2 separate regions of the Homo sapiens genome follow, and region 1 is linked to region 2. Evidence: fine-mapped expression QTL. Tissue or cell type: atrial appendage. Region 2 holds a variant in brackets; the other region holds the start of a gene. All regions are shown on one strand. Distances are from middle to middle.

Region 1 (8,138 bases), 55 kb after region 2:
TTTCACTCGTATGCGTATTATAGGATAAGTGACAGACATGTCCTAGTGGTAGTTTCAAATTTGGGGATCTGTAAATGTCCACTAGACTATAAGCTCCAAGAGGGCAGGGACCACATCTATTTGATTCCTTAGCATACCTGGCAGGTATGGAACAAATATGTATTGAATAAATCTAAGGCATAAAGTTGAAAATGTGTCAGAGGTCTCTTATCCTCCATTCTGTCCTATATCTTTGCAAATATGATATCCTGTTTTATGCGCTTGGATCCCTCTGCCTCCAATGTAAGTGCAGGTTCTGTTTCTCCCAGTTCTACTTCCCAGACTGCACGCTCCCCAAGGCAGGACCTGGATTTTCTCTTCCTCCCTTCTCCCTGCTCCTGGACAGAGCACTCCCCAAGGACACAGCCCAAACCTTCCTTTTGCCCAGCATGGCTGGGCAGGTTTTTGAATAGAAAATGATAGATCTTCAGCAGAAGAAAATTCCAGAAAAACTTGAGTATCTGATGGGCATTTTCTTAGGGGATACAGCCGATGTAAGAAGGGAAGCCTCAGAGATGACCCATCCCCTCAGTCGACGGTACATCAGACCTGGAAGGGATCTTTAAAAAGATCCAGTCAACCCACTTATTTCAATGCTATTCAAAAAAAAAAAGAGAGAGAGAGATTAAAGAGAAAAAAAGAGAGACAAAGAATCTCCAAGATCCATCAAGCCCCATCTAACTTATTTCTAGCCAGTATTTAACATAATAAAATTCCAGAAGAAAGTCTTTGATGTGATATCAATTGTTTCCAGCTGAGCAATGTGTTGTATACTGTGTCTAAGGCTTGACTGGCTGCCTTAAATTTTAATATATCTAGGATTTCATTTTCCCCATCAAATGTTTACCATCCCCTTAAACACTTTTTGTCCCTTCCTTTTCTTGACAAACCACTGCTGCCTTATTTTGCATTTGCCACGCCTTTTTTGGGCTTCGCATGTGAAAGCACTTTGAAAATTTTAACATACCATATTATTATTTAAATGCTTGCTCATTTTCCATCTGTAATCTTGCAATTTAACTCACTCCTGGGTTAGTGACATGTATTTCCATTAAGTGGAATCACATCTTTCACTTGGTTAAACCACATTCCAAAGCCTTCCCATTAATTAATTAGAACAAAATCCACATTTTTGACCTTGGCCCTACAGATCGGCCTCTCCTGCTTTCTGACTTTCTCTCACACTGCTCCCCTTGCCTACTAGGTCTCAGCACTCCTTGCCTTTTTGTTTCTGAAACAAACTAAGTTCATTTCCAGCTGAAATCCTTACACCTGCTTGTCTCCTCACCTGGAATGTTCTTTACCTACCTTTGAGTTCCTCCTCCTTCACCATTCAATTCTCTGCTCAAAAAGGCCTTCCCTGCCAGGCACGGTGGCTCATGCCTGTAATCCTAGCACTTTGGGAGGCTGAGGTTGGCGGACTGCCTGAGCTCAGGAGTTTGAGACCAGGGTGGGTAGCATGGTGAAACTCCGTCTCTACTAAAAATACAAAAAAATTAGCCAGGCCTGGTGGCGCCCGCTTATAATCCCAGCTACTTGGGAGGCTGAGGCAGGAGAATTGCTTGAACCCAGGAGGTGAAGGTTGCAGTGAGCCGAGATCACGCCACTGCACTCCAGCCTGGGTGACAAAGCGAGACTCTGTCTCAAAAAAAAAAAAAAAAAAAAAAAAAAAGGCCTTCCCTCACTACCACTCTGTATACAATAACCACCTTCTACTCCCATCCTCTCACCCCATTTTATTTTCTCCAGAGCATGATTTGAAATTGTCACTTGCTTATCTGTTTAATCTGTTCCCTGCTTTGGTTACCATGTCCCCAGCAGCTCAAACAGTGTGGTAGGCACTCAGATGTTACTGGCTTCTCAATGAACATTTGTTGACTAAATGAAGTGCAATGAGAAGGATGAAGGCAAAAGTATATACTTATCCTAGCACTTAACAGGAGCAGGGGGCCTCACCGCCTCAGCAAAAATCCAAATTAGCCATTTAAGACTTTAAGTTTGCAAGAATGTACGCAAGAATGTACTCATTTAGTCAGCCAATACTGACTGAACACCTACAACGTTTAATACACATCTGGGTGGCTGGGCGTGGTGGCTCACACCTATAATCCTGGCACTTCGGGAGGCCAAGGCAGGCGGATTGCCTGAGGCCAGAGTTTGAGACCAGCCTGGGCAGCATGGAACCTGGTCTCCACTGAAAATACAAAAAAATTAGCCAGGCATGGTGGCGTGGGCCTGTAGTCTCAGCTACTTGGGAGGCTGAGGCATGAGAATCGCTTGAACCCGGAGGGGTGGAGGTTGCAGTGAGCCACTGCATTCCAGCCTGGGCGACATACACTGTCTCAAAAAATAATAATAAATAAATATATATATGTATATAAATAAATGTGTATATATATGTGTGTGTGTGTATATATATATATATATATATATATATATATATATATATACACACACACATACACACACACCCCTGGGTATTGTGTTAAAACCTGCTGCTTGCCTCTGAGGTATTTTTAGACTAGATGGAGGGTGAGAGATGTGCATAATCAAAACATATGGAGAAATGGTTAAGTGCCACACAAAATGTGTATGGCAATTCAGACGCTGGACTGAGCAGTTGTCACTGGGAGAAGAAGCCTTAAAGGGTAAGTGAAGTTAAGACTGGCCTGGAAGAGTGAGAACTGGCATTCCAGGCAGATTGAACAACACACATAACACAAAACAAGCAGTCCAGACCTGTTGATTTTCTGGACTGGACTTCAATATGCTAGAGTAGATGTAGTGTGTAGGAAAATCAAGTCTGGGAAGGCAGGTAGGGCCCAAATTGTGAGGGGTCTTAAACAGTAGGTAGTGAGGAACTACCCATTTTGTTGTGAAAACTGTTCCTATTTATTTGTTTCCTTCCGAAGGGACGCATAGTCATATTAGTCTCATTCGGGGTCTGTGGCTGTTCTAAGGACGCTGCCAAGTTCTGGTTAGCAAGGAAAGCACCGTGCACGCCATCTGAGACGACAGTAACCTTCCTTACCTTAGACCATTCGGTGGTATCCACCCAGTAGAAGGTGATTTTTCGGGCGACCATGACTTCCCGGACTCTCTTGGGCAACAACTTCTCCATCACCTGCTTAGGGGTGGGCGGCAGGCGCTGGGCCTGGGCCTCGCACCCAGACACGAACTGCAGCAGCTCCCTCTGCGAGTGCGGACAGGGGGCCAGGAGGAAGACGGCGTTCACCAAGCCCCCGAGCGCGGCCTCGGCCTCCTTGGCCTCGCTCTCCACGTCCAGCAGTCTCCTCCCGCTGCTCCGCAGGATCGGCTTCGTGGGCGACGTGATCTCGGGCCGGTCCCACTGGTAGTCTAGCAGCGTCTCCATCAGGGCGCCGTGCGTGTGGGTGGCCCTGGGCGCCGGGCCGGGCAGGTGGGCGCGATCCTCGAGCCTGGCCTCCAGCTCCTCCTCAAAGTCCTCCCACGAGCGGGACCCCAGCTCGCGGAAGTCAGACACGCGGGACGGCCGGCTCCGCGCCCCCTGCGAGTCAAAGAACTTGAAGGCCCAGTGGACCCTGGCCAGGCCGAATCGGCAACTCAGATAGGTGAGGAGGCGCAGGGCGGCCCGCCGGACCCGGCTGTGGCGGGCGGCGCCGCCCGCGGTGTCCAGCAGCAGCATTACTTTGTGACAGCATGCCATATCGGCCGTGCCGCCGCCCCGGGGCCCCGGTCCGGGCCCGCGCCACCGTCCCTTAGTCCCTTCCTTCAGGGAAACAGCACCACTCACTGCTTTCCTTTGGGACCCTGGTCGAAAGGCTCCCGCGCTCTCCAGGAACTGCTGCTATTGGGGGAGCTAGTTTCCAAGGTTTGCTCCTATTGGCTGCTTGCCTTACGTAAGTTACGAGAGCAACTTCCATTTTTGGCGGTGATTGGAGGGGCAGTGGAGAAAACTTCAGTCTGATTGGTGGAGGGAGTGACGGTGGGCGGGTCTCTGTGGTCCGAGAGAAGCTTAGCATTCATTGGCCTGGGCCTTCGTTTTAAATTTTAAAGAGGTGGTGCCTCGGGGGCGTGTCGAGAAGTTTCGCCATTGGAAAGAGGCCAGCGTTTGTGCGCAGTCGTGAGTGCGGACTGCGGGGCCACGTTTCCCAAGACCGAGGAAAACTTAGTGCCGGGAGGGAATTTGGGATGGTTTGAATCGAACTTGTTGAAATCCCTGTGGACCGCCTAGGAAGTAGAATCTGACGACTACGGCTTTTTCTGTAATTTAAAAAATTTTATTAAAAATTAAAGGTTCACTCCCTTTGCCCCAGTAACTTCTAGGAGTTTATCTGCAGAAGGTAATCGGAGAGCCAGATAAAAGACGTCTGTACATCTTAGAGTTTATTTAACATCAGAAAAAATGGAAACAGTTTGGGAATGGTTAAATAAGGTATGGTACACGCCCAAGGGGAGCATCGTGCAGCTCCTTTTTTTTTTTTTTTTTTTTTTTTTTTTTTTTTGAAACGGAGTCTCGCTCTGTCTCCTAGGCTGGAGTGCATTGACACGATCTTGGCTCACTGCAACCTCCACCTCCCGGGTTCAAGCGATCCTCCTGCCTCAGCCTCCTGAATAGGACTACAGGCGCACGCCACCACCCCAGACTAATTTTTGTATTTTTAGTAAAGACGGAGTTTCACCATGTTGGCCAGGCTGGTCTCAAACTCCTGACCTTGTGATCCACCCGACTTGGCCTCCCAAAGTGCTGGGATTACAGGCGTGAGCCACCAAGCCCGGCCTAGTGCAGCTTCTTAAAATAGTGTTTTATTATGTAATGTTAGGTTTTAAAAGTGGACTGCAAGCAGCACCTGCAGTGAATTCCCTAAATTTTCTATCTACATGTATATATAGATAGAAATCACATGTAGATTTGCATTACAGATAGAAATTATATATCGCTATATAGATAGAATACATAGAATTATATATAGATAGGCCGGGCACGGTGGCTCACGCCTGTAATCCCAGCACTTTGGGAGGCCGAGGCGGGCGAATCACCAGGTCAGGAGATCGAGACCATCCTGGCTAACACAGTGAAACCCTGTCTCTACTAAAAAAAAAAAAACAAAACAAAAAAAAAAGGAATTATATATAGATAGATAATCATAGATAGAAGTTATATATAGATAGAAATGCATTTATATGCATATTTTTAAACTGTTAATATAATATTGTGTACCGGAAGTTGTCTGTGATGGTCTCTCCATGTGATTTTTTTTGAAACTTTTTTACACTTCCTCTTGCTGGACACCAGTGAACAGGCTGATTTCAGAGATGTGAGATGTGCCTCTAGGATCAGTGGAATATGGTATTTGGAAAGAAGAAGGGGACAAAAAATGAAGGTCGGTTACCTGAATATGTGTTTAGGGAGATTGATCCAATACTCCACACCATTGAATTCTGCTTGCTAAGTAATTCTGTTTCCACCTGGAAACAGAACAACTTCCTTTATATGCTTTGGCTACAACTTCCTTTATGTGCCTTGGCTTCTCCAATCAAAGTCCTCAGCAATTACTGCCTCATGTACAACAATTTTCTCTTTTGGTTGAGTTTTCTAGGGCTGCCTGCCATAACAAAGGATCAAACCCAAAAATTGCCTCACAGTTCTGAAGGCTTGATGTCCAAAATCAAAGTGTTGGCATGCACTTGCTCCCCTCCAGCCCCCATGGCTCTAGGGGAGAATCATCCTTTGACTCTTCTAGTTTCTGATGTTTGCTGGCAATTCTTGGTGTTCTTCCTGTGTGTCTTCCCGTCATCTTCCCTCTGTGCATGGCTGTCTCTGTGTCCAAACTTCCCTTTTATAAGGACACCAGTCATGTTGGATTAGGGCCCACCCTAATGACTTTATTTTAACTTGCTTACTTCTACAAGACCCTATTTTCAAATAAGATCACATTCTGGGGGATGCTGGGGGATAGGAGGACCTTAACATATCTTTTTTTTTTTTTTTTTTGAGATGGAGTCTCGCTCTGTCGTCCAGGCTGGAGTGCGGTGGCGCGATCTTGGCTCACTGCAAGCTCCACCTCCTGGGTTCCCGCCATTCTCCTGCCTCAGCCTCCCAAGTAGCTGGGACTACAGGCGCCAGCCACCACACCCGACTATTTTTTTTTTTTTGTATTTTTAGTAGAGACAGGGTTTCACCATGTTAGCCAGGATGGTCTCGATCTCCTGACCTCGTGATCCACCTGCCTCGGCCTCCCAAAGTGCTAGGATTACAGAAGTGAGCCACTGCACCCAGCCAGGACCTCAACATATCTTTTTGGGAGGACACAGCTCAGCTCATAACACCTTTCATCCTTATGCCAGTCATTCATTTCACTCATCCAACAACACTTACTATATACCAGGCACCATTCCTGCCCTAATGGAATTTCCAGTCTAATAGGTAGGGGATCAGACATTAGACAGATAATAATACAGATGAACATAATATGAAAAAAATTTTTTTTCCGAAAAGAGGTTTTTTTGTTTTGTTTTGTTTTGTTTTTTGAGACGGAGTTTTGCTCTTGTTGCCCAGGCTGGAGTGCAACAGCGTGATCTTGGCTCACTGCAGCCTCCACCTCCCGGGTTCAAGCAATTCTCTTGCCTCAGTCTCCCGAGTAGCTGGGAATACAGGTGCCCACCACCATACCCCACTAATTTTTTGTACTTTTGGTAGAGATGGGGTTTCGCCATGTTGGCCAGGCTGGTCTGGAACTCCTGGCCTCAGGTGATCCACCCACCTCAGCCTCCCAAAGTGCTGGGATTACAGGCATGAGCCACCACCCGGTCTGAAAAGAATTTTAAGGGGAAAGTGAAGCATAGGATAAGGGACTACAATGGGTGAGCTGGTTAAGATTTTTGTTTAAACTTTAATGTATTCACATATTGCATTTTGTGACATATTGCATCACAAACCTTACTGAAATGTATATTGTGCCTTGAGGTGTTAAGGGATAAGCAACAACCTAACGCAGTGAGATTTAAACTGAGATTTTAGGGGTAAGCAGGAGTTTAACAATGGCGGGTGAGATAGGGACAGGAAAGAGCAGGGAGGAAAAGTGATTGGGGCATCTTTGAAACACCCAGACAGGAAGGAACATAGAGAGTTTGAGGAATGGAAGGAGGGCAGTGGGGCAGTGGGGCTGGGTGGTGGTGAGCAGGTGGTGGGATGAGAGAAAGGCCAGGGAGGCAGTGGGGCCAGTGAGAGGCTCTGGAGACCACAGAGGTAGCTTGGATATTCTACTGAGAATGTTAGGAAGCCAGGGGAAGGTTTTGAGGACGGGAGGGACTTGATATGATTTGTGTTTGGAGAAGAGCGCTCTGGCTACTAGGTGGAAAATTGAATATGTAGGGGCAAGAATGAAGCAGTGAGACCTGTGAGGACATGCTGCAGACCATGTTGGGGACTGTTTTCCAAAGGGAAGAGCTAACACACAAAGAAGTGCCCAAGGCAATCAACCCACTGGGTGCAGGAAGAAAATATTGAACTTCCGTTTCTCTTATTTTTTATCTGACAATGCACTCATTCATTGGGTACCAGTGTTTTGTGACTACTGCATTTTTCATTAATCTGATTAAATGGATTGAAGGATTATCCAATTGAGTTTTAACTAAAACGAGTCTCAAAAAATGAACAAGTGTGGCCGGGTGCGGTGGCTCACGCCTGTAATTCCAGCACTTTGGGAGGCTGAGGCAGGCGGATCACCTGAGGTTGGGAGTTCGAGACCAGCCTGACCAACATGGAGAAACTCCATCTCTACTAAAAATACAAAATTAGCTGGGCGTGGTGGCGCATGCCTGTAATCCCAGCTACTCAGGAGACTGAGGCAGGAGAATTGCTTGAACTTGCGAGGCGGAGGTTGTGGTGAGCCAAGATCGCACCATTACACTCCAGCCTGGGCAACAAGAGCGAAACTCCATCTCAAAAAAAAAAAAAAAAGAAGAAGAAGAAAAAAAAAAAGAAAAAGAAAAAGTGGCTTTACAAGATTCCTGCTAAGAAGTCGTATGTTGGAAGTTGTATTATTAATATTAACAATACAATCACAAGCAAATCACATGAAAATGGTGGATCTGACATTCTTGTTTTCCTAGTATGA
Region 2 (8,000 bases):
CTTGCAGTTTGATCTCCGACTGCTGTGCTAGCAATCAGCCAGACTCTGTGGGCGTAGGACCCTCTGAGCCATGTGCGGGATATAATCTCCTGGTGTGCCTTTTTTAAGCCCATCGGAAAAGCGCAGTATTCTGGTGGGAGTGACCCGATTTTCCAGGTGCCATCTGTCACCCCTTCGTTTGACTAGGAAAGGGAACTCCCTGACCCCTTGCACTTCCCGAGTGAGGCAATGCCTCGCCCTGCTTCGGCTCGCGCACGGTGCGCGCACCCACTGACCTGCGCCCACTGTCTGGCACTCCCTAGTGAGATGAACCCAGTACCTCAGATGGAAATGCAGAAATCACCCGTCTTCTGCGTCACTCACGCTGGGAGCTGTAGACTGGAGCTGTTCCTATTCGGCCATCTTGGCTCCTGTGTCCTGTTATTATTTTTTGAGTCAGAGTCTTGCTGTGTTGCCCAAGCTGGAGTGCAGTGGCACGATCCCGGCTCACTGCAACCTCTGCCTCCCGGGTTCAAGTGATTCTCCTGCCTCAGCCTCCTGAGTAGCTGGGATTAGAGGCACCCACCACCAAACCCAGCTAATTTTTGTATTTTTAGTAGAGACAGGATTTCACTATGTTGGCCAGGTTGGTCTCAAACTCCTGACCTCAAGTAATCCGCCCGCCTCAGCCTCTCAAAGTGCTGGGATTACAGACGTGAGCCACCGCACCCGGCCTCTGTTATTATTATTGGTCTATCACCCACCTACCCATTTGCCCTCTATCTGCCTGCCCTTGTTGAGTGCCCAGCACTATGGCAGGCTCGCGGTAGCCCCGTGCATGGCCCAGTGAAGACTGTGTGGGTCCCAGGTGCTGAAGGAGAAGAAGCAGGCTACGGAGCGGCTGGTGTCACTGTCGGCCCAGAGTGAGAAGCGACTGCAGGAGCTCGAGCGGAACGTGCAGCTCATGCGGCAGCAGCAGGGACAGCTGCAGAGGCGGCTTCGCGAGGAGACGGAGCAGAAGCGGCGCCTGGAGGCAGAAATGAGCAAGCGGCAGCACCGCGTCAAGGTCAGGCTCACGGCAGGGTGGGGACCTTCTGTCCAGGCCAATAGGCTGAGCTGGCGGCCCAGCCAGGGGAGCCCAGGCAGGGTTTGCAACCCACAGCCACGTGACCTTAGAAAGCAGGTCACTTAGCCTGAGTCTGTTTTTTCATCTGAAAATGTGGAATGTTATAGGAAACTCAAGGCCAGGGTGAGACTTCAGTGAGATGAGGTATATGAGGTGACTGGCATCTTGTGGGGCTTATTTCTAAGTGTTTGCGTCTATTTGCCGGTCTCCAGGGAGATTTGTGTGGGATGGGTCTGGGGGACACTTCGCAGGGCCCTCTTGGGAGTGGGCAGGCACTCCTGGGGGCTTTGGGATCGGTGGCAGGCTCTGGTAAGATGCTGGCACCATAAACAGCCCTGCCCACTGAGCTCCTCACCCAGGAGCTGGAGCTGAAGCATGAGCAACAGCAGAAGATCCTGAAGATTAAGACGGAAGAGATCGCGGCATTCCAGAGGAAGAGGCGCAGTGGCAGCAACGGCTCTGTGGTCAGCCTGGAACAGCAGCAGGTGGGGCCAGGCTGTGTCCGCACCCAGGGCTCCCCTGGGGGCTGGCTGGTGGGTGCACCTTTCTCCCCAGTGAACCTCGAGTGGCGGCTGACACAGCCAGAGGTGGGCCCTGAGTTCCCTCCCTCCCTCCCTACTTTTCCTTAGAAGATTGAGGAGCAGAAGAAGTGGCTGGACCAGGAGATGGAGAAGGTGCTACAGCAGCGGCGGGCGCTGGAGGAGCTGGGGGAGGAGCTCCACAAGCGGGAGGCCATCCTGGCCAAGAAGGAGGCCCTGATGCAGGAGAAGACGGGGCTGGAGAGCAAGCGCCTGAGATCCAGCCAGGTGAGGCCCTGCCAGGAGAGATCCTGCCAGGTGAGGTCCAGTGAAGTGAGGTCCAGCCAGGACAGATCTTGCCAGGTGAGCTCCTGCCAAGTAAGTTTCTGCCAGGTGAGGTCTAGCAAAGTGAGGTCCTTCCAAGTGATAAACCTGCCAGGTGATGTCCCTGCCAGGCGAGGTCTAGACAGGAGAGTTTCTTCTAGGTGGTATCTCTGCCAGGTAAGTTCCAGACAGAGGAAGCTCTGTCCTACTGGGTTCTATCCTGTGCATCCCCATGAGCTGTAGGGCTTCAAGATATTTATGACACAGTTACAGATGTATGCATAGAAGAACCTCTCTTAAGTGTCCATCCTCCAATTCATTTCACTCATTAACCCCCTCCTCAGGGCCTGTGCAGGAAGAATGAGGAGGCGCAGGTATAGGAAGGTGGTATAGCCAAATAGAAAGAGACTTCTCCGCCTGGCATCATTACTCCATCTAGAATAGGAAGGTCAGCTTCTGAGCCACAGCGTTGTCTTCTGTCAGATGGGATCATAATGTTACCATGATGGCTGGAGGGGGATGGCCGTCATTGATGCAGGGCCTGTTCCAGTACAGGGGCTTGGGCCACACGCCCAGTGTCCTAGGCCCGCAGAGGCCAGGAGCCTTGCTCCTGCCAGCACGCATCACTCTGATGTCCAGGAGGATCCAGGGTCCTACTGGAATGATCCGTAACTTCCCTCCGCCAGGAGAGCCCTCACTTCCTCCCGCATCTGGCTCCCAGAAAGGCCTTTAGGGCTTGGCCAATTCCTATCACTGTCCAGTCCGGTCATCTCAGTGACAGATCATTCCTCCCACCCCTACCCATTGCCTGTTCTTGCCAGGAGGGCCACGTCCCTCTGGTCCTTATCCTCCTCTCGCCATCTCTGAGTGCCCCTCTGCAAATGCTCTGGTCCCTTTAGCCCCGCCTCCTGGAGTCTCTGTGAACTAAGTCTGGTCTCCCTGCTGAGCAGAACATTTGGAGTGTTGGTTTCTTGAGGGAAGGACGCAAGTCCTCCTTAACATCCGGCCCTTTCTGTCCCCCCTGTGAGGACAGTGCCTGTTCCTTCTCTAATCCCTGGTGATTCTGCCCCCAGGCCCTCAACGAGGACATCGTGCGAGTGTCCAGCCGGCTGGAGCACCTGGAGAAGGAGCTGTCCGAGAAGAGCGGGCAGCTGCGGCAGGGCAGCGCCCAGAGCCAGCAGCAGATCCGCGGGGAGATCGACAGCCTGCGCCAGGAGAAGGACTCGCTGCTCAAGCAGCGCCTGGAGATCGACGGCAAGCTGAGGCAGGGGAGTCTGCTGTCCCCCGAGGTACCCTGCGGCCCCATGGCTCAGCCCCTTGGTGCCATTGTATGCCTGTCTGTCTGCTCTCCTCAGCCCTTGCTCCAGCCCTCTGCGGGTGCTGGGCCTTGCTGTCGGCAGACCCAAGTTTTCACTGTTAGGTGGAGGTGGGGGCTGGGGAGGGCTGGCCTGGCCCTTCTGCCCCTGCTTTGGCCTCATTGGCTGGGACACAGGGGCCAGGCTGTGCTGACCTCTCAGCTCTCTTCTGGCTGGAGCCTGGACTCCTGTTCTGTGCTGCATTCGAGTACCTGCCCACACGTCTCGGCTTCGTGTGTGGAGTGTCAGGCGCATACTCAGTGCACCTCATGCCCACACATCTGTGTTCCCTGAGCAGAGAGAAAGCCTATGTGACTATAGTCATGTGCTGTGTGACATTTCAGTGAATGACAGCTCATACAACAATGGTGCTCCCAGAAAATTATAACACCGCATTTTTACTGTGCGTTTTCTATGTTTAGATACACAAATACTCACCATGGTTAACAACTGCCTACAGTATTCAGTACAGTCACATGCTGTCCAGGCTTGTAGCCTAGGTGTGTGGTGGGCTATACCATCTAGGTTTGTGTGAGTATATTCTGATGTTTGCACGACGTCGAAAACGCCTAATGATGCATTTCTTAGAACGTATCCCCATCTGTAGAAGCTTACCCAGCAGACACCGTGGTGCCTCCGTGGCTGTCCCAACCATGCCTTTTGTTTGGTTAGGGTGCTCTGAACTTCCTGAATGTAGATCATTCACAGAGGCTTGCAGTTGAGCAGGCCACCTCTGAGCAGTGCCCCCAGCTCACCCTGGGGTTGGGGCTGTGACAGTGAGCAGGGGGCACCTCTCTCGATGGGCTGACTTGGCCCTTGGGACGAGGGGACCCTTAAGGCCCAGTTGTGGCTACGTGTTGGCTGTTGCATGTCTGCCCAGGACTTCAGCATTCAGGCAGTGGGTGCTGTTCCTCCACGCGTGCCC[G/CTG]TCTCTGCAGGAGGAGCGGACGCTGTTCCAGTTGGATGAGGCCATCGAGGCCCTGGATGCTGCCATTGAGTATAAGAATGAGGCCATCACATGCCGCCAGCGGGTGCTTCGGGCCTCAGCCTCGTTGCTGTCCCAGTGCGAGATGAACCTCATGGCCAAGCTCAGCTACCTCTCATCCTCAGAGACCAGAGCCCTCCTCTGCAAGTATTTTGACAAGGTGGGCCAGCAGCCCATGGCCCCCCAGCTCCTCCTCAGCGGCACGTGTGGGGAGGTGTCTCATGGCAGCTGCTCCAGCGGATATCCCGTTTCCTCCCAGACTGGGGGACAGAATCAGGACCAACTCATCTGCAGGGCCGCCTGACCTTAAAGCCTATTTTACTTGTGAAACTAAGACCCAGTTTCCTACCCGCCCCCCACTTCTGCTCTGATTGGCTAACCTCAGGGTGGTCCATGGCCACAATAGTAGCTCTCAGTAGGGGAAGTTTTTGCCCTTTTGTGACATTTGGCCATGGCTGGAGATACTTTTGGTTGTCACAGTGGTGGGGGTGGAGGCCAGGGATGTTACTAAACATCCTATAACACACAGGACAGGCCCCCACAACCAAGAATTATCTGGTCCCAGATGTCCATAGTGCTGAGGTTGGTCTAGATGAAATCCCACAACTTGACGCTCTGCCCAGCTCCATAGTGTGTGGCTAGGAAAGGGTTTGTGGCAGAGATAGCAGATAAGGTGAGAGCCAGCTCTGATCGTTGGAAGATAACTAGAGCACTGCTGAGGTGTCTGAGGCTGAGTCTTGGCTCAGCAGGGAAGACCCTGGTGATTTCTTAGTGCCGTGGTGGCAAGTGTGCCAATACTGTGTCTGTGATTGAGGATTAGCTGGATGAAGAGGGGTCATGATGAGGGCTGAGCCTGGCTGGGTCTTGGGACAGGTGGTGACGCTCCGAGAGGAGCAGCACCAGCAGCAGATTGCCTTCTCGGAACTGGAGATGCAGCTGGAGGAGCAGCAGAGGCTGGTGTACTGGCTGGAGGTGGCCCTGGAGCGGCAGCGCCTGGAGATGGACCGCCAGCTGACCCTGCAGCAGAAGGAGCACGAGCAGAACATGCAGCTGCTCCTGCAGCAGAGTCGAGGTGAGCAGCCCGGCCCATGGCTCACAACCCCGGCCCCCTCCATCCCCCCCACCCCCATCTTCCCCGCCCTGCACCCCCCTCCCTCCCCCCACCGCCCCTGCCACTCACAGCCCCTGCACCTACAGCCCTGGTGGCCCGGCCCACCGCTCACAACCCCGGCCCCCACCCAGCCCACAGCCCCCACCCCCACAGCCCTGGCCGCCTGCCCCGCCTGCAGCCCTCACCACCCTCTCCTCGACCTTTCCACTCTAGACCACCTCGGTGAAGGGTTAGCAGACAGCAGGAGGCAGTATGAGGCCCGGATTCAAGCTCTGGAGAAGGAACTGGGCCGTTACATGTGGATAAACCAGGAACTGAAACAGAAGCTCGGCGGTGTGAACGCTGTAGGCCACAGCAGGGGTAACTCCTCGTCGCGCTCTGAAGTCAGACCTGTTCCCTTTCTTTGGGGAAAGCTTAGAGACCACTCTCCCTCGAGCCTTTATTGGCTCAATTCACAGGTTGCTTATTGTGCTGGGGCACTGGGGAGCTAGGGCTTCGGGAAGGTGTTGCCACCTGTTTCTGATGAGGACACGTTACTCTCCATGACAGGTGGGGAGAAGAGGAGCCTGTGCTCGGAGGGCAGACAGGCTCCTGGAAATGAAGATGAGCTCCACCTGGCACCCGAGCTTCTCTGGCTGTCCCCCCTCACTGAGGGGGCCCCCCGCACCCGGGAGGAGACGCGGGACTTGGTCCACGCTCCGTTACCCTTGACCTGGAAACGCTCGAGCCTGTGTGGTGAGGAGCAGGGGTCCCCCGAGGAACTGAGGCAGCGGGAGGCGGCTGAGCCCCTGGTGGGGCGGGTGCTTCCTGTGGGTGAGGCAGGCCTGCCCTGGAACTTTGGGCCTTTGTCCAAGCCCCGGCGGGAACTGCGACGAGCCAGCCCGGGGATGATTGATGTCCGGAAAAACCCCCTGTAAGCCCTCGGGGCAGACCCTGCCTTGGAGGGAGACTCCGAGCCTGCTGAAAGGGGCAGCTGCCTGTTTTGCTTCTGTGAAGGGCAGTCCTTACCGCACACCCTAAATCCAGGCCCTCATCTGTACCCTCACTGGGATCAACAAATTTGGGCCATGGCCCAAAAGAACTGGACCCTCATTTAACAAAATAATATGCAAATTCCCACCACTTACTTCCATGAAGCTGTGGTACCCAATTGCCGCCTTGTGTCTTGCTCGAATCTCAGGACAATTCTGGTTTCAGGCGTAAATGGATGTGCTTGTAGTTCAGGGGTTTGGCCAAGAATCATCACGAAAGGGTCGGTGGTAACCAGGTTGTGGTTTAAATGGTCTTATGTATATAGGGGAAACTGGGAGACTTTAGGATCTTAAAAAACCATTTAATAAAAAAAAATCTTTGAAGGGACAAATGGGAAGTTTTCACTTAGAGTTTGATTTACAAGACAATAGGAGGAATCAGATTTGGGAACACAACAGGCTTGAACACTTTCTGGAGACTGAGAGACAGTTCAGAGTCAGCCCTCACCGTTAGCCAGACCCCTGGCCAGGACCCGCAGCAGGCTGGTCCAGCGGGTCTGTGGGGCACTCCTGTGGGGCACTCTTGGTGGAAACGATGAGCCAGGTGATGGTCTCCCCAGGAGTGGGCAATGGGTGAGGCCTGAGCCCTGAACTGGCTGGCTCTTGGACAGTCCTTGAAAATGTGGCTGCTCCAGAAGCCACTCAAGCTGGACCATGGTCACAGTTAACCTCAGGCCCAACATTAAACAAAAATGTACTGAGTGCTCAGTCACTAGAGATGATTTTACTGTTACACAGGGAAGGCAAAAAATAGCTTCCACTGCCCAATGCACTCTTCAGTTTCACGTATATGGCTTCACAGTTTACAAAGCGCTGCCTGTGTCGCAGCAGCCCAGCCTTACAGCAGCTCAAGGGACCCCAGGGAGGGCGCCTTTCTCCATTTGCATAAATGAGGCAGAGTGGCCCCCTGACTTGCCAAGGTCATGGTTGGGGTGAGGCTGGAATGGGATTCCTTGTCTGGGTTCCTGACTCCCAGGCTGCCTGAGTTATAGCACCAATCACATTGCCATCCACCTCTCCTCCTGCAACTTCCCCAACAAGGGGCAGGGCCAGGAGATGGATTGGATCCATAAGGGGAATTAGAAAACCCTAAGGCATTCTAATGGCAATCTGAACACTGACCATGGCAAAAGAGGCTTGGGACCAGGCATCCAACTTCTTTATGTCCACAGGGTCCTGGCTGACTCCTTGATCTTTTGGGCTCAGTAATGTTTGTGGCTATAAGTCCTCCAGCCAGGTTCCCATGAGCTTCTTCCGTGTATAAGTTCTGCTGATGGGGCGCCTCCTGGAGAAAGCGCGACTGAAAGGAGAGTCTTCTACAGTGGAGGGAAGAACATCCACATCCTCATCTAGAAGAAGGTAGAAAGGCTTAGCATGCAGGAGTCACAGAGGACCGAACTGAAAAAAATTGGCTTAAATTGCAGAGGGTTACACACAAAAACAGACTTTAAGAAAATCAGCACTGCTTGGAGGTTCGCTTATCCTACAGAAATGGTACCTACACTTTTTAGAAGGACCCTGCCCTTAACAGCTATGCACCGTGCTGGCAGCAAGAAGCAGCTCTGAAAATGCAA

Which allele goes with the higher level. Alleles are on the strand shown, and positions count from the first base shown. SD is a standard deviation of normalised expression in the study named.
For the expression in atrial appendage of the gene that starts at base 3,842 in region 1, allele CTG in region 2 goes with a lower level than allele G (moderate effect, 0.42 SD a copy in GTEx).

What was found. PIP is the estimated chance that this variant, and not a neighbour inherited with it, causes the effect.
Region 1: TICRR starts here. The variant in region 2 is fine-mapped to the expression of TICRR in atrial appendage (GTEx, PIP above 0.99). The same link has a PIP of 0.9 or more in breast, subcutaneous fat, thyroid, tibial artery and tibial nerve.

Annotation. Positions count from the first base shown.
Region 1 is chr15:89,571,173-89,579,310 of GRCh38, reverse strand. It overlaps TICRR (TOPBP1 interacting checkpoint and replication regulator), which reads right to left and starts at 3,842. Exons shown (of 22, transcript NM_152259.4): 1 at 3,071-3,842. The coding sequence starts at 3,724. RefSeq lists an enhancer at 2,915-3,443 and a silencer at 3,565-3,854.
Region 2 is chr15:89,626,731-89,634,730 of GRCh38, reverse strand. It overlaps TICRR (TOPBP1 interacting checkpoint and replication regulator), which reads right to left. Exons shown (of 22, transcript NM_152259.4): 22 at 6,708-7,775. The coding sequence ends at 7,645. KIF7 (kinesin family member 7) reads left to right here. Exons shown (of 19, transcript NM_198525.3): 12 at 848-1,045; 13 at 1,465-1,590; 14 at 1,735-1,911; 15 at 3,021-3,236; 16 at 4,238-4,444; 17 at 5,158-5,356; 18 at 5,609-5,755; 19 at 5,945-6,754. The coding sequence ends at 6,312. Among named protein-coding and RNA genes, the nearest start is that of KIF7, 25 kb to the left of the region's middle. RefSeq lists an enhancer at 4,768-5,967. The variant G/CTG (reference allele first, on the strand shown) is at 4,228.